3 separate regions of the Homo sapiens genome follow, and all the other regions are linked to region 3. The links come from fine-mapping of genetic effects on gene expression. Tissue or cell type: thyroid. Region 3 holds a variant in brackets; each other region holds the start of a gene. All regions are shown on one strand. Distances are from middle to middle.

Region 1 (8,110 bases), 220 kb before region 3:
TTTAGAGGGCTCAGAAGACAGGAAAATGTGGGAAAGTTTGGAACTCCCTAGAGACTTGTTGAACGGCTTTGACCAAAATGCTGATAATGATATGGACAATGAAATCCAGGCTGAGGTGGTCTCAGATGGAGATGAGAAACTCATTAGGAACTGGTGCAAGGGGGACTCTTGTTATGTTTTAGCAAAGAGACTGGCAGCATTTTGCTTCTGCCTTAGAGATTTGTGGAACTTTGAACTTAGGAGAGATGACTTAGGGTATCTGGCAGAAGAAATTTTTAAGCAGCAAAGCATTCAATAAGTGACTTGGGTGCTGTTAAAGGCATCAAGTTTTAAAAGGGAAATAGAACATAAAAGTTCAAAAAATGTGCAGCCTGACAATGCCATAGAAAAGAAAATCCCATTTTCGGAGGAGAAATTCAAGCCAGCTGCAGAAATTTGCATAAGTAACGAGGAGTTGAATGTTAATCTCCAAGACAATAGGGAAAATGTCTCCAGGGCATGTCAGAGATCTTTGCGGCAGCCCCTCCCAACACAGGCCCAGAGGCCTAGGAGGAAAAAATGGTTTCATGACCCAGGCCCAGGGTCCCGCTGCTGTGTGCAGTCTAGGGACTTGGTGCCCTGTGTCCCAGCCACTCCAGTCGTGACTAAAAGGGGCCAAGGTACAGCTTGGGCTGTGGCTTCAGAGGGTGCAAGCCCCAAGCCTTCACAGCTTCCACATGGTGTTGAGCCTGCGGGTGCGCAAAAGTCAAGAATTGAGGTCTGGGGCCGGGTGCACTGGCTCACGCCTGTAATCCCAGCATTCCAAATGATTGTGAGGCCTCCCTAGCCATGTGGAACTGTAAATCCATTAAACCTTTTTCCTGTATAAATTACCCAGTCTCAGGTATGTCTTTATTAGCAGCATGAAAACAGACTAATACAGAGGGTCCTTGGATCTTGTGCAAGAAAGATTTCAGGGCAAGTCCACAGTGCAAAGCAAAAGCAAGTTTATTAAGAAAGTAAAGTGGTGAAAGAATATCTACTCCATAGACAGTAGGGCGTTCCTGAAAGTAAGAGGAGAAACGTGTCCACCCTAGGTAGAATGCTTGCTTATATATAGGATAAAAAAAGATCATGGGGAGATGTGCTCTGCCACAAGGGTTTGTGATAAAGGATTAATTTTTTAAATTACTATATTTTACAAGAATCAACATTATTATCTTTAAAGCAAAATTAGGAATGCTTCTATTCTCAAAATATCGGGATCTCAGGACACTCCTAAGTACGGGTCTGTTTAGTAAATGTTATTAGTCTGTTCCCTTAACCATAAACATCTAGAGGCTAGGAATACCTAACTTCCTGGGAATGCAGCCAAGCAAGTCCCAGCTTCACTTTTCCTAGCCCTCACTCAAGATGGAGTCACTCTGGTTCAAATGCCTCTGACAATACTGTACTACAGTTTTACAAGATGTTACCCTTAGGGGAAACTGGGTAAAGGGTACACAGAATCTCCCTGTATTACTACTTCTCATATTCCATATGAATCTACAATTGTCTCAAAATAGTTTAATTTTAAAAATCTAATCAGGTGGCACAGGCTTCTCTTTACCTCTTGTTTAAAACCAATAGTTTCCCACTGGTCACAGTGGCTCACGCCTGTAATCCCAGCACTTTGGGAGGCTGAGGCAGGCAGATCACCTGAGATCAGGAGTTCGAGACCAACCTCAACAGGGAGAAACCACGTCTCTATTAAAAATACAAAATTAGTCGGGCATGGTGGTGTGTGCCTGTAATCCCAGCTACTCAGGAGTCTGAGGCAGGAGAATTGCTTGAACCTGGGAGGTGGCGGTTGTGGTTAGCCGAGATCGCGCCATTGCACTCCAGCCTGGGCAACAAGAGTGAGACTTGGTCTCAAAACAACAACAACAACAACAAAATAGTTTCCCATTGTTCATAAGATATGAGACCCCAGACATTAGGACTTCACTTCACCAGGATCACCAGACTCCTCTCAGAGCTCCATCCATAACTCGCATTCTTTTTTTTTTTTGGAGACAAGGTCTCGCTCTGTCTCCCAGACTGGAGTTCAGTGGTGTGATCTCGGCTCACTGCAACCTCCACGTCCTGGGTTAAAGCAATTCTCCTGCCTCAGCCTCCCCAGTAGCTGGGATTACGGGCACGCACCACCACACCTGGCTAATTTTTGTGTTTTAGTAGAGACAGGAATTCACCATATTGCCCAGGCTGGCCTTGAACTCCTGAGCTCAGGCAATCCACCCGCCTCGGCCTCCCAAAGTGCTGGGATTACAGGCCAAAACTGGCATTCTATCAGGCTTCCCACTAGACATAGTCCTGTAACCTAAGGCAGGTCCAGTTCCCTGCAGCTTGCAAATTCAAATAACAAGTAAGAGAATGGTAAAAAGAAAGTGACTGCCACGGGCACGGTGGCTCACGCCTGTAATCCCAACATGATCCAAGGCAGGCGGATCATGAGGTCAGGAGATCGAGACCATCCTGGCTAACATGGTGAAACCCCATCTCCACTAAAAATACAAAAAAATTAGCCAGGCATGGTGGTGGGCACCTGTAATCCCAGCTACTCGGGAGGCTGAGGCAGAAGAATGGCATGAACCCAGGAGGCAGAGCTTACAATGAGCCAAGATCACGCCACTGCACTCCAGCCTGGGCGACACAGGGAGACTCTGTCTCATAAAAAAAAAAAAAGAAAGAAAGTGGCCAGGTGTGGTGGCTCACACCTGTAACCCCAGCACTTTGGGAGGCCAAGGTGGACGGATCACCTGATGTAAGGAGTTTACGACCAGCCTAGCCAGCATTGTGAAACCCCCTCTCTACTAAAAACACAAAAATTAGCCAGGCGTGGCAGCAGGGGTCTATAATCCCAGCAACTGACTAGGGAGGCTGAGGCACCAAGAATAACTGGAACCTGGGATGCAGTGGTTGCAGTGAGTGGAGAGTGCGTCATTGCACTCCAGCCTGGGTGACAGAGGGACTCTGTCTCAAAAAAAGTGGGGGGTGCACGGGACTTGGTTGACCTGGATGGCATGCAAGGGGTGGGGAGGGACCAAGGAGGTGCTGGGTCTATGGGACTTGCTCCTATGTATCCATCAGTGATCTGGTTGGCGCCATGGAGGCTGGGGCGAAGGCGGAGGGGGGGTGGGGGGTAGCGGGGAGCTAGGTTGTAAATTGACAGTTGTCCCCAGGCAATCCCCTGGTATGGGAAAGTTCCAGAGGTCCCTGGTTTAAGCTTCGGTCCTTGGAACTAATAAGCGAACACATAATTAGATAAGCTTACAGTGTAGAGAGTGTCTGGTGGAGAGAAGGTAAAGGTTAATTGGATTTTTTTTTTTGACAGGTGTCATTCTGTCGCCCAGGGTGGAGTGCAGTGGCGTTATCGTGGCTCATTGCAGTCTTTACCTCCCAGGGCTCAGGTGATCCTCCCACCTCAGCCTCCCCAATGGCTGGGACTACAGGCCGATCTCGCCTGCCTCGGCCTCCCAAAGTGCTGGGATTACAGACGTGAGCCACAGCACCCACCCTATAATTGCATTCCTAAAGAGCTAAATAGGAGGTGGGGTGAAAGGAGAAAAGTAAAAATAATTCATTTTTCTAAGAAAATGGGTAGTTGGTCACACTCCTATTTACTAGGGCCTTTGCACATGTTCTCATCTGCACTGTGCTTCCCTCTCTTTTTCTATTTAACTATTTATCTTCCAGATCTCAGCTGCAGCCGCAGTTTCTTAGGATAACCTTCTCCAACTTCTCGAAGATACTCACCATGATTAATTGATTAGTGTGTTATACTAGGCAGATAGTTCCACGAAGAGAAGCTCTGTATCTCTCAGTCTCACTGTATGCGGAGTGGGTAGCTCTGCACCTAGGATGCTCAATAAGAACGGTATTTATGAACTGAACGACAGAAGGTTGAACGACTGCCCACTTATGCACTGAGCCTTCCGGAGGGACGAGTCTACAGGGGTCGCGCGTCGTAACGACGTCACTTCCGTCGGAAGGTTCTCATGAGGAGCCACTCAGATTCCTGTCACTTCTCAAAGCATCTCCGTCGTGAACATGGCCCTGCCACCATTCTTCGGCCAGGGTCGCCCAGGCCCACCGCCCCCGCAGCCGCCGCCTCCTGCTCCTTTCGGCTGTCCGCCACCGCCGCTGCCCTCCCCGGCTTTCCCGCCGCCTCTCCCCCAGCGGCCCGGCCCTTTTCCGGGGGCCTCCGCCCCCTTCCTTCAGCCTCCGCTGGCTCTGCAGCCCCGAGCCTCCGCGGAGGCCTCCCGCGGCGGAGGCGGCGCTGGCGCCTTCTACCCGGTGCCACCACCGCCGCTGCCTCCTCCGCCGCCCCAGTGTCGGCCCTTCCCGGGGACCGACGCCGGCGAGCGGCCGCGGCCACCGCCTCCCGGCCCGGGGCCGCCCTGGAGCCCGCGGTGGCCTGAGGCGCCGCCGCCGCCGGCCGACGTGCTCGGGGATGCGGCCCTCCAACGCCTGCGCGACCGGCAGTGGCTGGAGGCGGTGTTCGGGACCCCGCGGCGGGCAGGCTGTCCGGTGCCCCAGCGCACGCATGCCGGGCCCAGCCTTGGCGAAGTGCGCGCGCGATTGCTCCGGGCTCTGCGCCTGGTGCGGCGGCTGCGCGGCCTGAGCCAGGCCCTGCGCGAGGCCGAAGCCGACGGCGCGGCCTGGGTCCTGCTGTACTCCCAGACCGCGCCGCTGCGCGCGGAACTGGCCGAGCGGCTACAGCCGTTGACCCAGGCTGCCTATGTGGGCGAGGCGCGGAGGAGGCTGGAGAGGGTCCGGCGCCGCCGGCTGCGGCTTCGCGAGAGGGCCCGGGAACGCGAGGCCGAGCGGGAGGCAGAGGCCGCGCGGGCAGTGGAACGCGAGCAGGAGATTGACCGCTGGAGGGTGAAGTGTGTGCAGGAGGTGGAGGAGAAGAAGCGGGTGAGAGCAGCGGCCGCTCATGGGGGTAGGAGTGGTGGTGGTTGGAACCTGGAGCAGCAGGAGGCTTTAAACTTCCATTTCCCAGGGCTAAGCCTCTGTTTTACGCGCAAAATGAAGCGATAGCTAACCTTCCCAGCTCATACCACCATGTTAATTTTGTGTTAATGATGTGTGGTACACAAAAGTTCCAGGTGCACTGTAAAATCCTGTAAACACAAAGTATAGGATTACACGGTGGCACTGCACGAATGACAGGTCTCCCCTATCCTGCTCCAACATTGTCCACTTACTCTCAAAACCAGTAAGTGTCTAGTTCCTTGTGTCTTGTACTGCCCTAGGTGGTTTTAAGAATACAAAATACAGGCCGGGCGCGGTGGCCCACGCCTGTAATCCCAGCACTTTGGGAGGCGGAGGCGGGTGGATCACGAGGTCAGGAGTTCAAGACCAGCCTGGCCAAGATGGTGAAACCCCGTCTCTACTAAAAATACAAAAATTAGCCATGCGTGGTGGCGGGCGCCTGTAATCCCAGCTACTCTGGAGGCGGAGGTTGCAGTGAGCCGAGATCGCACCACTGCATTCCAGCCTGGGCGACAGAGCAAGACTCCGTCTCAAAAAAAAAAAAAATAGAGAACTTGGGGACCCTACCTCAAGGAATATATATACTCTAATTAGCTGATGGGGCAATAGTGATTTCCCTAGGATTCTTTTGTTTACAAGTTTTAAACCATGTATCCCCAGGTTCAGCAATGGTGTTTCGGAGCATTTACTATATATATATATATATATACACATACATACATATATATACACATACATATATGTATGTGTATATATATGTATGTATGTGTATGTGTGTATATATATGTATGTATCTGTGTATATATAGAGAGAGGTGTGCTAAGGTCATTACATATACCAGATTTTGAATCTTTATAACAGCCTTGAGAAGTAGGAAGTATTATGCTAATTTTACAGGTTAGGAAGTTGCATAGAGAGGTTAACTTGCCAACAGTCACACAACGAGTTTGTGGCAGTTTCCCATATTTGATCCCAAGTTGTCTAATTCCAAAGCGTATTGATCTCAGACTCTTTAAGCAGGGCCAGGGTAAAACTGGAAATTGTTCAGATGGTTTTCTAAGGCATTTTCTTTCTTTCTTTTTTTGAGATGGAGTTTCGCTCTTGTTGCCCAGGCTGGAGTGCAATGGCATGATCTTGGTTCACCACAACCTCCACCTCCCGGGTTCAAGCGATTCTCCTGCCTCAGCCTCCCGAGTAGCAGGGATTACAGGCATGCACCACTACACCCCAGCTAATTTTGTATTTTTAGTAGAGACAGGGTTTCTCCATGTTGGTCAGACTGGTCTCGAACTCCTGACCTCAGGTGATCCACCCGCCTCAGCCTGCCAAAGTGCTGGGATTACAGGCGTGAGCCACTGCACCTGGCCGTCTAAGGCATTTTCATTACCTTTGATTGCCTCTGGGGTTCCCTTTCCTCTTCCTCATTATTTCTATTATTATTACATTATAATACATAATGAAATAATTATACAACTCACCATAATGTGGAAACAGTGAGAGCCCTGAGATTGTTTTCCTGCAACTAGACAGTCCCATCTGGGGGTGATAGGAGACAGTGACAAATCATCAGGCTTTAGATTCTCATAAGGAGCCCACAACCTAGATCCCTTCCATGCGCAGTTCACTTCTTTGTGCTCCTATGAGAATGTAATGCTGCTGTTGCTGATCTGACAGGAGGCGGAGCTCAGGTGGTAATGCAAGCAATGGGGGAGTGGCTGTAAATGGAGATGAAGCTTCACTTGCTCGCCTGCCTCATCTTTTGCTGTGTGATCTGGTTCCTAACAGGCCATGGACTGGTTACCATCCGTGGCCTGGGGTTTGTTGACCCCTGGCTTAGAGATCTGTGGGAGATCATGTCAGTATAGCGTGGTGTGTGTTAGGAATTCAACTATAGGTGCTGTAAAAGCCCAAAGAAGGAACATCTGATTTACTGAGGGAATGCTTCCCAAATGATACAATGACACGTAAGCTGAGTCTTTTTTTTTTTTTCTGAGACAGAGTCTCGCACTGTTGCCCGGACTGAAGTGCAGTGATGCCGTCTTGGCTCGCTGCAACCTCTGCCTCCCAGGTTCAAGCGATTCTCCTGCCTTAGCCTCCAGAGTAGCTGGGATTACAGGTGCACACCACCACTCCTGGCTATAAGCTGAGTCTTAAAGGAAAAGTCACCCAGGTGAAGGTAATAGGTGCAGTTCCAGGGAAACAGAGTAATCCAAATGGAGAAGTGAAACAGCTTGGTGTTGGCTGTAGCTGTAGTGGTGGAATTACAGGCACTTATTTGACAGATGGGGGAGAGCACTTTAGGCAAGAGGATTCTCTCCACCACCCATGGTGAACTTTTTATTTTATTTATTTTATTGTTTTAAGGAGACAGGGTTGGGGCTGGGCGCCGTGGTCATGCCTGTAATCCCAACACTTTGAGAGGCCAAGGCGGGCGGATCACCTGAGGTCAGGAGTTCGGGACCAGCCTGGCCAACGTGGTGAAACCCTGTCCCTACTAAAAATACAAAAAATTAGCTGGGCATGGTGGCAGGAGCCTGTAAACCCAGCTAATTGGGAGGCTGAAGCAGGGAATCGCTTGAACCCAGGAGGCGGAGGTTGCAGTAAGCCGAGATCGCGCCATTGCCCTCCAGCCTGGACAACAGCGAGACTCCATCTCAAAAAAAAAAAAAAAAAAAAAAAGAGGGTTGGGGGCGGGTGCGAAGTGGCTCACTCCTGTAATCCCAGCATTTTGGGAGGCTGAGGCAGGCAGATTACTTGAGCCCAGGAGTTCCAGACCAGCCTGGGCAACATGGAGAAACCTCGTCTCTACAAAAAACACAATTAACTGGGCATGGTGATGCTGTGATCACACCACTACACTCCAGCCTGGGCAACAGAATGAGACCCTGTCTCAAAAAAAAAAAAAAAAAAAAAAAAAATACAAAGTTTCACTCTGTTGCCCAGGCTGGAGTGCAGCGGGTTTGTCATAGCCTGTAGGTTTGAACTCCTGGTCTTAAAGTGATCCTCTCGCCTTAGCCTCCTGAGTAGGAATAGCTAGGGACACATGCCATTATGCCCAGCTTCCATGGTGAGGATATTGGTGACAGAGTCTTAT
Region 2 (8,110 bases), 200 kb before region 3:
TAAGTTCCATAAGGAACTTAAAAAAAACTATGGGTTTATAATGTTTCCATGTTTCAAGGATGCTGCATACATCTTGTTTAGTCCTCATTAGTCCTTGAGAAGTTGATGTCCCTATTTTTATAGGTGAAGAAAAAAACTCAGGTTGTGACTTGCCCTGTGTTAGTAGGCACATATGCAAATACAGAATCTGTAAATAATGAGGATTGACTTTATTTGTTATTTGGTTATCCATAAGGTTTAAGTTCTTCAGAGTTTTTCCTCTTTTTATATGTACATTTAAGAAATATAGTCATTTTCTTGATTCCTAGAAATCAAGTTCTGTAATAGATTAGTATATCAGTCATTTGAAAGCTAAGTCTTAGAATATGTAGTTGCTGAACATCTTATTTGGAATAAAACAGAAATAAATAGTTGTTCTATAATGTTCTTATTAAGGCATGATTGGGATCAGTACCTGGTGCCATCCGATCATCCCAAAGGCAACTTCGTTCCCCAAGGATGGGTCCTTCCCCCGCTCCCCAGCAACGACATCTGGGCAACTGCTGTTAAGCTGCATTAGTAAAGATGCTCCAGGAGTGTGGTCCAGCCAGCGCTCTTTCCAGCTGTAAATATTAGCGATGGTGCCATCTTTTGCTGTAGACTAAACTGCAACTTCTAAATTCCATGTGGCATTCCCCTACCCTGAAGTTATGCTTTCCTTCTGTGCTCTGTGCTGGCCAGAGGTGCCTCTTGAATCAGATTAATGTGGTTTTTCAGGAAAGGACTTAGGTGAACTGAGGTTTTTACCACAGGCAGTGAATGACCTTGGTTCACCAAATTTGCCTCTGTTTTGAGGGGCTTGGTCCAGAGTGACTTGTTAATTTACTCTAACTTCCTTGTGTGTTGATGGGTAAGTACACTCAAACACTGAATACAGGTGTGTGATGGGTAGATTTCACAGCCCTTCTACTAATAGTGAGTGTGAAGGCAAGCTTGATGCAAAACCTCCTGACCTTTCCTACCTGAAGAGCCCTTTGACTTCTAGGAAGAAAGGTCAAAAATGTTATCTTCAGTTGTGTTAATCCCAGTTTTAGTGCAGCTTAGGAGGCTGCTAGTTAGGAAGATGGCAGTGGCTGTAGGCTGGGTTGCCAGAAAAGATGGTGGCCTAGTCTTATTATTCAGATGGAGAACTTAGAAAACCTGAAGAGTACCCAAATTGGATTGTATTTTAATGGACAATGGCTGTATTTTTTCCATGTTAGAAGGATCCTAATGAAAGCACCTGTTATTTTTAAGTTTCTAAGGGTCTAGTTGTTCAGAATCCCCAAGGATATTTCCCTAACCTCACTCAGTCACATTGTAGGAGCCAGTGTAGCTATGGAATTATCTTAGGAACTCAAGCTTCTAAAACTATCCATGTAGTCAAATCTAGGGGAAAAAGCAAATAAAAATAGTAAAATTTGGCCGGGCACAGTGGCTCACGCCTGTAATCCCAACACTTTGGGAGGCCGAGGCGGGCCGATCACGAGGTCAGGAGATCAAGGCCATCCTGGCTAACACGGTGAAACCCTGTCTCTACTAAAAATACAAAAAAATATTAGCTGGGCGTAGGTGGTGCACACCTGTAGTCCCAGCTACTGGGGAGGCTGAGGCAGGAGAATGGTGTAAAACCCAGGAGGCAGAGCTTGCAGTGAGCCGAGATCGCGCCACGGCACTCCAGCCTGGGAGACAGAGCAAGACTCCGTCTCAAAAAAAAAAAAAGTAAAATTTATTTTTTATATTCATTAATAAATGCTGTTGTGCTTGGAGATGATCACTCATATAACATGTCATTTTTTTGGTTCTGTTTTGGTTTGGTTTTTGCCAATTATTTTGTTATATTTCCAAAAAACTAAATAAAAATCATTTTTATTTTTTAGTTTGTGCCTTTGCTGCCAATTTGTTGCCTTCCAAATCACTTAACACACACTTTCACATTGATGAAACATATTTTCATTCAAAAATTCAAATTTATTAAGCAGGCATTTGTTACAGGAATTTGAATCTTAAATGCTAAACTTTATCTGCAAAATCCAAGTCTGGATTGGTAAGGATACCATCAATTTTGGAAATAATGTTACGTACTGTAGTTGGAAGCTTTTGGGTGCAAGATACTAATGGCTTTGTCCCTTTTCTGTTGTTTAATTTGCATTAATTTATACATTATATAGAGTCAACAGATAGGGAATGAGGGCCACATGTCTCCAAAATGTATGTCTACGCTTATAAATCTTAAAATCTGATATGATTACCCTCATAGAGCTCCACAATCCTGTGTGCCTTTTTGTTAGATATCTCCACCATTTGCTCTCTGATGAGATGCAGGAAGAGTAGAAATAAGGTGAATTGTACGATGTGTGTTTGGTGTCTGGACAGCCTTGCCACTAAGATATCTGCTGTGAGGGCAGGGAATGTGCTGCAGGGACTCAGGAAAACTCGGACAGCAGAACCCAAGAAGGTGGCATTTAGCCACAGATGGAGAAAAAAAAAATCCCTTTTTCCTTTGGCCCTTGCAAGGTTTTAATAAAGTGATCAGGCTGGGTGTGGTGGCTCACGCCTGTAATCCCAGCACTTTGGGAGACCAAGGTAGATGGATCACTTGAGGTCAGGAGTTCAAGACCTGCCTGGCCAACATGGTGAAACCCCATCTATACTAAAAATACAAAAATTAGTCAGGCATGGTGGCAGGCGCCTGTAATCCCAGCTACTTGGGAGGCTGAGGCAGGAGAATCACTTGAAGCCAGGAGGCGGAGGTTGCAGTGAGCTGAGATCACACCATTGCACTCCAGCCTGGGCAATAGAGCGAGACTCTGTCTCAAAACAAAGAAAATTAAAAAACAAAACAAAACATGAGCATTACTCTTGTTCGGTTTTTATTTGTAAGATTTTCCTGGTTTATTACCTGTGTGTAGTGGTGGTGGCAGTAGCCACTGGTTCTTTCAGGTTTAGAGAGACTCATGGTAGTATCTTTAATGAATTGTACTTTCAAGAATATGAGCAGTGTTATTGTAATGTTATCCCACAGTCTTTTTTTTTCTTTTTTTAACTTGGGGAAAATTTCAAATACATTCAAAAGTAAAGAGAATAGTACAATGATTTTTTTCCATGTACCCATCATCCAGCTTCAAATCATTATCAGCTTATGGCCAATCTTGTTTCATCTATACATCCTCCACTCACCCTGGATTATTTTGAAGCAAATCTCAGGCATCAAATTACTTCATCTGTAAATATTTCATTATGTAGCTTTAAGTGATTAAAAAAAAAATCTAACTACAGGGCCATTATCACATCTAAATAAAGGAGTAACAACTCCTGAATATCACAAATATCCAATCATTGTTCAAATTGCCCTCTCGTAAATGTTTTACGTTTTGTTCAAATTAGGATCTGAATAGACTCCATACACTGTTGTTTGCATCCTTGTGATGCCATGTCCCTCTGTTCTCGTATGTCCTATAATTTAGTAGTTAAACAGAGCTGTACTGTCCAATATAGTAGCCACATTCAGCTGTTGAGCACTTGAAATGTGATCTATTTGAGTTGAGATGTGCAATTACATATGTGGATCACGTTTCAATTGGATAGTGCTGATCTAGAGGCTTGATCACATTCAGATTGGAATTTTCTGGCAGGAATACTTCACAGACATAATGTGTACTTCCAGTCAGGAGGCACTGATGTCTTGGCTTTTTTTGTGATGTTAGCGGCCACTGATAAGACCCAGATTCATTCATTGATGGGGAGGGGACTCAAAAATAGTGATAGTTTAATTCTGTCATTCTTCAATTATTAACTGGAATACTTTTAAAAAGAAAAACTGTACAAAAGCATTTGTTTTTAATAAATTCGGTAAATACAGAGATTAGAAAGCTATGAGAGAAAGAGATTAGTTCTTAAATACTAAGGGTATTTAGCCCAAGTGGCTGAGTTTATGATGTCAAAGAATTTGCTGCTACAAGCCAACCAACTTAATCACTCTATAAAACCATTCATGCTCCTATGCCCATGTGACATTTGTAACAAGAAGCTTAGGCTTATGCCATCTGTTGTAGCTATTCATTTATACACGCTTTGTCTGCAGGGAAGTTCTCCTGGTAATTACAAGGTAAGTACAAAGTATATCTTATTCCATTTAAATAAGTATAATATGCAATATATGAAAGGAATGTGAACATTCTGAAATAGTAGTGATTTATGGAATAGTGATTAAATGAGACATTATCAACTAAATTTGTTTTTTGCCACCTGTTTGTCCCAGATTTTTTGTAATGCTTAGAACCTATAAGCTATTTCCATATGATGAGCTCTTTACCTTTTTGTGAATCCACATAGTAGTTCCTGGCTTCCTGTATCTGGCCACACATGAAGAGTATGTTTCCATTGCAGAGTTCATTTGCCTTTTGGAATAAATTTGGTTTTTCATAGCCTCCAAAGCAAAGATTAAGGTCTCTGAGGCAAGTGGTGTTAGAGTGCATAACTGTGTAGAACAGTGGACACTTTCCTCAGCTTTGTTAATTCATGCTGGCCACAGTCTGGATACCAGAATTTGAATTATGTTCTATGGGAAATGATTTTTTATTTACCATTTTCCAGGTACTGTGGTTAGGTGCTAGGGATGTAAGAAGGGGTGAACAGACAGGATTCCTGACCTCCTGGAGTTTAGAGTGAAGAAGCTTAATGATTATAACAGAGTCATTAGAGACAATTGTGATAAGTGCTACAAGGAAAAGTACTTATCAGCCAATTTATATATTTCATTCCAAATGTTTAAGTGCCTATTAAAGCTAAGCAAAATGCCAAATACTCCCTAACCTCATACAGAATACAGGCAATGAGGAAGGTAGATATTAACCCAATAATCATAAAAAATATGCTGAGTGCTTTGAAAGAAAGACATGGTTCTGAGATTATGAATTAGGATTTTTCTTCAAAAGCGTTCTGTGACACATTTAGTTGAAATAATAGGAAATATGTATCATATAGTAAGGGTAAGAATCATTATTCAGTTTACATATGTGTATGCTAGGAAATAAAAGTATACTATGGGTCATAGTTAAAAAAAAAAAAAAAAGGCTGGGCGCGGTGGCTCATGCCTGTAATCCCAGCACTTTGCGAGCCCAAGGCAGGTGGATCACAAGGTCACGAGTTCAAGACCAGCCTGGCCAAGATGGTGAAACCCTATCTCTATTAAAAATACAAAAATTAGCGGGCGTGGTGGCAGGTGCTTGTAATCCCAGCTACTCGGGAGGCTGAGGCAGGAGAATCTATTGAACCTGGGAGGCAGAGATTGCAGTGAGCTGAGATCGAGCCACTGCACTCTAGCCTGGGCAACAGAGCAAGACTTCATCTCAAAAAAGTAAAAAATAAAAAACTTTGTAAAGGCCACTGTGCTAGGTAGACCTGACCAAGTTTGAGAGTCAGGGCAAGCTTTTTTGAGGAAGTGATGTTTCAGCTGAGCTCTGAAGAATGAACAGCTTTTTCTTTTCTTTTCTTTTCTTTTTATTCTTGAGACAGACTCTCGCTTTGTCGCCCAGGCTGGAGTGCAGTGGCGTGATCTTGGTTCACTGCAACCTTCGCCTCCCAGGTTCAAGCAGTTCTCTCGTCTCAGTCTCCTGAGTAGCTGTGAGTACAGGCGTGTGCCACTACACCAGGCTAATTTTTGTATTTTTAGTAAAGAGGGGGTTTTGCCATGTTGGCCAGGCAGGTCTCGAACTCCTGACCTCAAGTGATTTGCCCACCTTGGCCTCCCAAAGTGCTGGGATTACAGATGTGAGCCATTGTGCCTGGCATTTGAGCAGCTTTTAATTAATTGTGGGGAAGCAACAGGGAAGAACTTAGCAAGTATCCAGAACAGGATATGCAAAGGTTCTGTGGGGACTGAGAGACCATGGCAGTTGAAGGCTAGCATGACTGGAGTAAGATGGGAGGAGAGGAAACGGGCCAGACACTGCAAGCCTTCAGAAGTTTAATTTTTATTTTGAAAACAGCCAGGAACCATTGAAGAGTTTTAAGTAGGAGAGTGCCTTAGTTTTGTTTCGTTTTGTTTTCTAAAGAAGGGGTCTTGCTATGTTACCCAGGCTGGTCTTTAACTCACGGGCTCCAGCAATCCTCCCACCTCTGCCTCCCAAAGTGTTGGGATTACAGGCATGAGCCACCGTGCCCAGCCAGGAGTGGCTTAGTTTTGGTTTTGAAATGGTCATTCTTGCCTCAGTGTGTGGAACAGAATTATAATAATAAAGCATGTGAGGATACATGGAGATGAGTGGTCCAGGTGAGAGATAATGGGGGCTTGGATTCCCATGGAAGCAGTGGAGTTAGCCTGAAATGGCTGGATTCCAGAGATTTAGGAGATAAAAATTCACAGGAAATTTGAGATGGTGGTGGTAAAGGAGAGGAAAGTATCAGAGATGAGTACTCGTGCACCTGGCTCAATGTTACCATTCCTTGAGACAAGGAACCCTGGGGGCGAGGAGCAGTTTGGGGAAGGGAAAAATCAGTTCACTTTGATACGTTGAGTTTGAGAAGTCTTGAGACACTGTGTAGGCAGTTGTGTTTATGAGTTTGATCTCAGAAGAGAACTGGAGAATTTAATTTGTGAATCATTGGCAGGTAATTGAAGCTCTGGGCAAGAATAAAGTCATTTAGAGAGTATAGTGAAGACCTTTGGAAACAATACTAATGTCATTGCCTGGGCCCCACTTAAATCAATCAGTGCCACCTTCACCCATCCCACTCCCCATCCCCATGCCCAGATCCAAGCACATGGGCACCACCTCATGGGCTAGTGTTTGAGAGGTCCTGGCTTACAGTTTGTCCAAGCATGCACAGCCTGGCTTTCCTAACATTCCCACATCCCTACTCCATTCCACCACCTCAGGCCTCTTCCACACTTTGCCCACTACCTGCTGAATGGAGTCAGCACTCAGCCTGAAGTTCATAGTTCTCCCCAGCTCTACCCCAGTCTACCCTTTCAATTTTACTTCGTACTGCTTCCCAGCACAGACCATCTGCTTAAGTCCAGCAACTTGTCACTTCTCTCCACCCTGCAGATTCCTCTGCTCTCTTGCTCACAGGCTGTTCTTTCACCTTCCAGGGTCAAGGCCAAGTCCCATCTACTTCCTGAAGCTTCTCCAATGCCCATAAGGACTAGACCACTCCCCTTCCTTTGGAGAATATTATTACATAATGATCTGTACCTCTCATGTTGTACCTAGTGAGGTGACCCTCATTTTAGAATACTTTCTAACTAGGCAATATCGATATCTTTACTGTAGCCCTTGCCATTCTTAAGAGATATAGGGCCAGGCGTGGTGGCAGGCGCCTGTAGTCCCAGCTACTCAGGAGGCTGAGGCAGGAGAACCGCTTGAACCCGGGGGACGGAGCTTGCAGTGAGCCCAGATCACGCCACTGCACTCCAACCTGGGTGACAGAGCAAGACTCTGCCTAAAAAAGAAAAAAAAAAGAGATATAGGCTGGGCATGGTGGCTCACACCTGCAATCTCAGCACTTTGGGAAGTCAAGTCGGGTGGATCACCTGAGATCAGGAGTTCGAGACCAGCCTGACCAGTATGGCGAAACCCCACCTCTACTACAGATACAAAAATTAGCCAGGCGTGGTGGTGGGTGCCTGTAATCCCAGCTACTCAGGAGGCTGAGACAGGAGAATCGCTTGAACCTGGGAGGCAGACGTTGCCGTGAGCCTAGAAGATTGCACTACTGCACTCCAGCCTGGGAGACAGAGCGAGAGTCCGTCTCAAAAAAGAAAAAAATAGATATGTTCCCCAAATCCTCAGTATCCTAGAAGCAAGTGTAGGGCTGAGTAGAAAATACCTATTAGGATGCAGATGCTGGGCGGAAGATGGAGAGAAGGGTGCCCTATACCTGCTAAGTGGACAGATAGTCTCAATAGAACTGTGTCCCTTCCTTGGAGATAGCTCAAAATTCAGATGATACCTGAAAATGTGAATAATAAATCTGAGAATGCCAAAACTTGCTGAACTTTCCTGTGTCTCCTATAACACCCTTGTACCTCAAAGGTCCCCTGTAAGAACTGGCTGATGGGGCAGATAATTTACTGGTTACAGTGGGA
Region 3 (8,000 bases):
AGTTTGGAAAACCACACCACAAGCCTTCTGTGAATGGAGTCCCTGGAAACCGGGGAGAGGTACCATGTTTGGGATGACACCAGGGTGGAGTCAAAGGACTATTTGCAAAATTTCAAGAGAACGCCAAAAGCTGACCAGAAGCTGGAAGCAAGAGCCAGCAGGGACCACAAGCACTTAAGTTCTTCCTCATGAAATCCTAGAGAAGGTGTTGGATCTCGCATAGAGCCTCAAATGAGGGTCTATCATCCAAGATGGGGACATATTTTTTAAATTAAAAATTATAAAACAAAACAAAAGAAACAAATGAGGGTCTACAGCTGGCCTTAACTAGAGCCGAAGAGGCCAGGAGACCTGGCACTGGTTCAGAGCTCAGCACCTGGTAGAGTATCAGCAACTGTGGGCTGGCTGCAGGAGGAAGGAGAAAGAACAAGCACGGGCAGAGTCCAGAGGAAGGAGTCCACAGACGCTTGGGAGTAAAAAGGGTGAAGGCTCAGGACTGAGGGAGGGAGAGCCATGGGAGCCAGAGCCTCCTGACAGTGGGGACCTCCGGGATACATCACAGTCCTATACCAGCTTTCCCCACATACATAGTTCCTAGGAACTGTCCAGGCCAGAGTCCTGCGGCATATCACTACAGACTTTCCTCCAACCACAGGATTTCCCTTCTCCAGTATCTCCCGAACCCCATTACTACAGCAGGCAAGCCCAGCAGGCTGTCTTATTTTTCAAAAGGTTACTTATTACCATTTGCAAAAGAAACAGAGAGGATTCTTTTTTTTTTTTGAGACAGAGTCTCGCTCTGTCACCCAGGTTGGAGTGCAGTGCCACAATCTTGGCTCATGGCAACCTCCGTCTCCCAGGTTCCAGCGATTCTCCTGCCTCAGCCTCCCCAGCAGCTGGGATCACAGGTGTGTGCCACCACACCCAGCTAATTTTTGTATTTTTAGTAGAGACGGGGTTTCGAAATGTTGGCCAGGCTGGTCTCGAACTCCTGACCTCAGGTGATCCTCCTGCCTTGGCCTCCCAAAGTGCTGGGATTACTGGTGTGAGCCACCGCACCTGGCCAACAAGGAGGGATTCTAAAAGGGCCCCCTCTTACTGTTCTCCCTCGTAGCTTCTTTTCTCACTAAACCCCTGAAGGAAGAAATAACAGCACAGTGGTGATAGTGGGGGTCTCTGTGGGTATAAAGACTTGATGCAAGAGGCTCTAGTGTTTCACCAGGGAGCTCAGGCTAAGGATCCTAGACATTCTGCTCCTAAAGGCATCCCTAAAGGAGGCCTAAGCAGGTACAGGGAGGAGACAGGATTGGGGAATGGGGGAGGTAAGGGTTGCTGCCTCACCTCAACCCCAACTAGTAATCAAGCCCCCACATAGTGAGGCCTGGGAGCAGAGAGAAGCCGGAACAAAGAAAATTGTTTTCATGGACAACTAAGTCGCTGCAGGGAAGTTTATGGTTTTATTTTTTATTTTAAAATTTTTATCTATTTATGTATTTAGACACCAGGTTATGAGACTGACTAATTTTTGTATTTTTTGGTAGAGACGGAGTTTCGCCGTGTCATCCAGGCTCGTCCCAAACTCCTGGGATCAAGTGATCCACCCACTTGGCCTCCCAAAGTGCTGAGATTACAGGCATGAGCCATCGCGCCCAGGCGCTTTTTTTTAATTTAAATGTAGACAAAGCCATAAGTGTATCCCTTTCAAATGTCATTATTAGATTCAGCCTTTTTCCCAAACCTGTAGAGATAATTTTACAGACCCCGTTACTCATCAGTGCTCTCTCTCAGCAACACGCTGCCTGCCAATTGGTTAACTAAGACTATTATTAGTCTTTATCCAAGACTTTGATTGAAGTGTTAGCCAGGGCAGAGCCCTGTGGCATATCATGAGAGACTTTCCTCCTGGTGCTTTTGCTAATCAGGCCTCTATCAATCCACCCAATTATCTGTTCTACAGCCCTCTCTCTGTTCGCATGGTATCATGAGGGACTGAAAAGGCTCTCTGAGAACTGAAAGACCCTTGAAAGTGGAGAGCTCTTCATTGCTGTACAGGAGTAAAACAGAATCAGTGCAGTGTCCCTGCGCCTGAAGCCTCTGACTCCCCACCACTCTGCACCTGAATGTCTGCATATTAGCAGCAATCTCGGCAACTGGCTCATAGACCCAGAGAGATCTCCAGTGCCCCCCACCACCCTGAGACAGACAGACAGACAGACACGTACACACAGACGTGCCTCTGTGAGGGCCCCTACCGCATCCTCCTCGTCCACAGCAGCCTCGTGCTCCAGAAGCAGACGCACAGCCTGCTCGTGCCCTGCACCTGCAGCCCAGTGCAGGGCCACCCTGCCCACCTGCCCGGAGGGAGATGACACTTGTCAGGTGCTGCTGCCACCTGGCTGCCTGGACCACCTCCCACACCCTCCCCCAGGACAGCTGGTCTGCAGGCTGGAAGGGTCTTTGCTGGCTCTGGTCCCCAGCTAGCTGGGGACCCAGCCCCATTCTGCCACATGCTCCTCTCCTACATGGCAGCCAGAGCCAACATAGTAAAATGACTGGACCCATCTGTCCCCATCTAAAACTCTTCACAGTTTCTCATGGCTCTCAGGATAAACTCCTAACCTTGGGGATGATGAGGCGCTGCATGGTCTGGCACTGCCCACCACTGCTTCTCAGAAATACCAAGCAGCTTCCCACCTCTAGGCCTTTTCCTGCTGTTCCCCCTGCTGGAAAGCCCCATGTGGCCAAGGATTATCCTCCAAGTCCCTGAGAGGCACTGGAGTGCCTGGGTTCTGTCCCCTTCCTTCTCTCAGAATGGGGCTGAAGGGACCTGACCCACCACCTCATTCTCAGACCACCTTGGCAGTTCATAACGTTATCCAAATAGGCCTGAGGGAAGCTGGCCTGTGGCCCCTGTGCCCACTTCTCCCCTCTGTAGTTCTCAGCTTATGAGGGGACAATGAAAGGAAGCACTAGTTTTCTCTGTGGTCTCAGGCAAGCCACATCCCCTCTCTGGAGCCCAGCTGCTCCTTCCTACCTCAGGGCTTCTGCCCATACTATTCCCTCTGCCTGAAATATTGTCCTTCACTTGGCTCCTCAAAAATGCCACTTCTGGCAGGGTGAGGTGGCCCATGCCTGTAATCCCAGCACTTCGGGAGGCTGAGGTGGGAGGACAGCTTGAGTCCAGGAGTTTGAGACCAGCCTGGGCAACATAGCAAGACCCCTATCTCTAGAAGAAATACAAAAATTAGCTTGGCATGGTGGCACACGCCTGTAGTCTCAGCTACTCAGGAGGTTGAGATGGGAGGATCAACTGAGCCCAGGAAGGTCAAGGCTACAGTGAGCTGTGATTGCTCCACTGCACTCCAGCCTGGGTGATATGAGGTCCTGTCTCAAAAAAAAAAAAAAAGAAAAAAAGCCGACCCTCCTGCACACGCTCTTACGACAACTTATCACAGAGGGAATGAATTGTTTGTGAGATGCTTTGTGTGATGTCTGTCCTCCTCTTTTGCCCATCTGCCAGCTTCTGGCTGCTGACCTTTGACCCTGGCCCTCCTGGCTCTAACCTCTCAGATGGGTCCCAGAAGTTAAGAGTTTGACCTCTGGAATTGCCCAAGCCTGGCTTGACATCCTGGTCCTGACCTTGGGTGGGGGCCCAACCACTCTAAGCCTCAGATTCCTCGAGACAATGCAGGCCATGAGGACAGAGCCCGAGCCTCCCTCCAAGTTTACACATGCAAATGTGCCTGCCTCTAGCTCAGATAAACTATTCCCCCTGTGTACTGGCATTATCGTGACACTATCCCAGGTGCCTGGATTCAGAGAAGCTCATTACGCACGTGGTTTCTGGCCCTGGTGTTAACCCTCCTCCCAATCAGCTCCTGCATCCTGCCGACATTGTTCTGGCGGGCGGCCTCGTGGAGCTGCCTCTCCAGAGGAAGCACTGTGGGGAGAAAATGGGGTGCAGGATGAGGGGGAGGATGCCCCACACTGCAGACAGGAGAGGTAAACAACCCATTTCCACTCCTGAACATTTCTGGAGCAGGGGTCTTTCAGCTAGGAACAGGGGCAGAGCGGCACAGCCCTCCTCCCTCTCAAGGTCAGGGTCCTCCCCAGACAGGCTGCTCTTCCTCATTAACTCACCCCACAGCCACGCAACCAGGACGTGGTGAAACCCTGAAGATGGAAGAGCAGGGCGAAGCCATTTTCAGCAGCCTAAATGTGTGCCCCATTATCCAAGTTTCATGTACCCTCCCAAGAGCTGCTCTTGGGGAAGGAAATGAAATTAACTCCCTCTGGAGTCAGTAACCATCTTTTCCACGGCTCAGTCTACACAGCCAGGATTTACTGAGCCACCTACTGCGTGCCAGCGCCGGGTGAGGCCAGAGGCATGTTTACCCCACTCCTGCACATTCCGTCTCCTTGTTCCTCCACCCCTTCTTCCAACCCCTCTGTTGCCCAGGCTGGAGTGCAGTGGCGTGATCTTGTCTCACTGCAACCTCTGCCTCCCAGGTTCAAGCGATTCTCCCACCTCAGCCTCCTCGGTAGCTGGGATTACAAGTGTGTGTCACCACACCTGGTTAATTTTTGTATATTTGGTAGAGACAGGGTTTCACCAGGTTGGCCAGGCTGGTCCCCAACTCCTGACCTCAAGTGATCTGCCTGCCTCGGCCTCCCAAAGTGCTGGGATTACGGGCGTGAGCCACAGCGCCCAGCCTCTTCCAATCACTCTTGCCCAAATCCTAACCAGCTTCCACCTGCCCACGCTGAGGCTACCCTGATTTTCCTTCTCTGTGGTCTCTCTTCTCTGTGCTCCTCTCACCCCCATCGCTGCACCTTTAGCACAGAGTCTCAGATTAAA[G/A]GGAACCTCAGAGCTCCCCCTGCCAACCCCTGTCACGCACACCTGTGGGCTCAGGGTCAGACTGCATTAGTCTCTGAGCCAGGAGGACACAGGTCCAGATGATCCCCACCGGAGCCCCATGCTGCCATCATCCTGACGGCTCTTGATTGTGAGGATGTCTAGTCTCCATGGCTAGACTTCAAGTATTTTGGAGGCCCTGGCCACACTTGACCCTTCCTGATCCACCCACAGCTCACAGCAGGCCCAAAGGTGGGCACAGGAGGAACCCACAAAACTCTGCTTTTGAGCCAGGCATGGTGGCTCATGCGTGCAATCCCAGCACTTTGGGAGGCCAAGGCAGGAGGATGGCTTGAAGCCAGGAGTTCAAGACCAGCCTGGGCTAAAAAGCAAAACCTCCATCTCTACAAAAAAGTTTTTTTAAAAATTAGCCAGGTGTGGTGGCACATGCCTGTAGTCCCGGCTACTCAAGAAGCTAAGGCAAGAGGCTTGCTTGAGCCCAGGAGTTTGAGGCTGCCAATGAGCTATAATTGCACCTCTGCACTCCAGCCTGGGCAACAGAGTGAGACCCTGTCTCTAAAAAGAAAACAAAAACAGGCTGGGTGCAGTGGCTCACACCTGTAATCCCAGCTCTTTGGGAGGCCGAGGTGGATGGATCACGAGGTCAGGAGATCAAGACCATCCTCGCCAACATGGTGAAACCCCGTCTCTACTAAAGATACAAAAATTAATTGGGCATGGTGGCACACACCTGTAGTCCCAGCTACTCGGAAGGCTGAGGCAGGAGAATTGCTTCAACCTGGGAGCTGGAGGTTGCAGTGAGCCGAGATCATGCCAGTGCACTCCAGCCTAGTGACAGAGCGAGACTCCATCTCAAAAAAAAAAAAAGAAAACAGAAACAAAAAAATCTCTGCTTGTATGAGTGACACCAACAATCCCCAGACGAATAGATGCCTGTCCCCTCTCCCAAAGTGCTCACACATACTAGCACAGAGACAAATATTTGCTGGCCCTTTCCATAGTCACTGCAGGGCAAGTGACCCCATAGCCTGCATGTTTGGTCCAGTATGAATGTCTGAACCCAGCCCCTTTGTGTATCCAGGGACAGGTGACGAGTGTCTTGGTAGGGAAGGCTAAGATGCACTGAGGTGAGAGACAGGCCTGCCATGCAGTTTGTTTTTCTAGATAAATTCCACACAGTCTTCTCCAGATGAGAAAGAGGATCTTGAGCTTTCTGGGGCCTCATGGATACAACCTGTGGATCTCAGAGTTGCTACCCTGGGGGGCAATCACACAGTCCTGGGTTCAACTCTGGCTTAACCACTTCCTAGCTGTGTTAGGCAGTTTCCTCATCTGCAAAACAGGAGTGCGAGCTTCCCTACAAGGTTAATATCATGATTAGAAATGAGATATGAAAACCCCCTGGCACAGTGTCTGGCACATAATGACCACACCGCCACCACCACCACCATCATCATCACTATTATTCCTCCAAGGCAAAGGGTCAAATTCTGGTAGCCAAAGAGAGCTGCCACTTCAGATGTGAGCTTACAGAGGCCTGGGTTCTAGTACCTTCCCTGCCACTTTCCAGCAGCAGGATCCTGGGCTAGTCACATCCCCCTTGTAGGTCTGTTTCTTCCATTGTAAAACTGGGGGAGGGTGAAGAAAGAGATCTGTATAGGTCCCTTCCTGTCTGGCACCCTCTATCTTATGTGCAGCTTAGGGGGATTGGCCTGGTTTGTATTGGCAAACAGCCAGGAGTTCCAATGGGAAGCCAGCAGACACTGCATAGGGTCAGGCCAGAGAAGGTTAAGTTAGAATGAAATCAAGTCCAGTCTCATCTCTTCCATCCACCTCCCATCCGGCACCCTCTTTCTGGCCACATCCAATACCCACTGAGCTACCTGAGCCTTTGCCCATGCTGGGTCTTTGTCCAGAATTCTCTGCCACACACCCCAATGCTCCATTGGTACACATTCTTCGCAGGCCCACTCAAGTGATCCTCCGCCCCAGGCAGAACCATGTACCTAATCTTGATTGAGCATTCCCACCCCCAACACATCCCTCAGCTGAGTAGATGCAGTGTGCCAGCATTTTGGACACTATAGGTCTCAAAGGAATCCAGTGAGCTGCACTATGCGCTTTTGAGGGAAAGCCCCGGGATTCAGCTGTCAGGATTCAGCCAGGGCTGCAGGATCAAGGACTCACAGTGCAGACACCGACACAATCTTTCTCTCCCCTCTCCCAGACGGTGCAGCCAAAGCTGCCCCAGGCCAGCTGATGCCCACACAGACGCTGCTGCCCGGCCTAGAGGCCCTGGCACTGGGCGCACTCCTTGAGGGAGGTTCGGAGGTGCCCTCATTCCACCTGTGGCCAGTCAGGCTCCTCTCCTCTGAGTGCGTGCCCCATCTGATGCGGTCTCCACTCGCTATCCAGCCCCAGCATTCCGGGTGAGCTGGGCCCTTCAGCACTTCTACCACTCAATGGCTGTGTGACCTTGAACAACTCATTTGAACACCCTGTGCCTCAGTTTCTCATCTGCGAAATGAAGATAACATAATGTCCTACCCATATGGCCGCAGCGAAGATCAAATGACGTGCCTCTCCTGGGTCAAGGCCTGGCACACAAAGTACAGCACGCAGTCAAGGATCGCTATTACCTTTATTATTTGTAGCTAACCTCTCAGCCGCTGCTCCCCGCTCACCTGGCGGGTGTGGTCCCCGAGTCCCAGACGCACTGGCAAGGTCCCCTCGGCCCAGTGCGCGGACCGGTAACCATTCCGCTCGGAGCCACACAGACGCCCCACACGGAGGTGGCCGTTCGGAGGGCGCCAACCTCACCCCTGGCACTCCCCAAACGGATGCGGGGGTCCTCTCGGCCTCGGCCCGCCCCCCTCCCTCCTCCAGGCAGACTCACGGCCGTCGGTCTCCCACGCCAGCTCCTCCTGCATCCTGCCGCTCCGCAGCCCCTGCGCGCGCTGGTGCCCGGGCGCGAGGCGCGCGTCCGCCGGGGCGGGGCCCGGGGAGCCGAGAGGACGGGGCGGTCGCTCCTCCAGACTCCACGCCCCGCCTGCTAGGAGCGCAGCTGCCCCGGCCACCCCAGTCCCGGACCAGGACGCAGGTCCCTCCTCCTGCTCTCTTAACC

Evidence for each region. PIP is the estimated chance that this variant, and not a neighbour inherited with it, causes the effect.
Region 1: PDCD7 starts here. The variant in region 3 is fine-mapped to the expression of PDCD7 in thyroid (GTEx, PIP 0.95).
Region 2: UBAP1L starts here. The variant in region 3 is fine-mapped to the expression of UBAP1L in thyroid (GTEx, PIP above 0.99). The same link has a PIP of 0.9 or more in whole blood.

What each region holds. Positions count from the first base shown.
Region 1 is chr15:65,129,740-65,137,849 of GRCh38, reverse strand. PDCD7 (programmed cell death 7) reads left to right here and starts at 4,042. Exons shown (of 5, transcript NM_005707.2): 1 at 4,042-4,938. The coding sequence starts at 4,069. RefSeq lists an enhancer at 3,757-3,856 and silencers at 4,147-4,356, 4,417-4,816.
Region 2 is chr15:65,111,166-65,119,275 of GRCh38, reverse strand. UBAP1L (ubiquitin associated protein 1 like) reads left to right here and starts at 4,076. Exons shown (of 6, transcript NM_001163692.2): 1 at 4,076-4,126. It overlaps PDCD7 (programmed cell death 7), which reads left to right. Exons shown (of 5, transcript NM_005707.2): 5 at 436-1,897. The coding sequence ends at 559.
Region 3 is chr15:64,911,737-64,919,736 of GRCh38, reverse strand. It overlaps ANKDD1A (ankyrin repeat and death domain containing 1A), which reads right to left and starts at 7,835. Exons shown (of 15, transcript NM_182703.6): 1 at 7,773-7,835; 2 at 3,837-3,940; 3 at 2,223-2,351. The coding sequence starts at 7,806. RefSeq lists enhancers at 3,872-4,372, 7,080-7,623 and a silencer at 7,810-7,989. The variant G/A (reference allele first, on the strand shown) is at 4,859.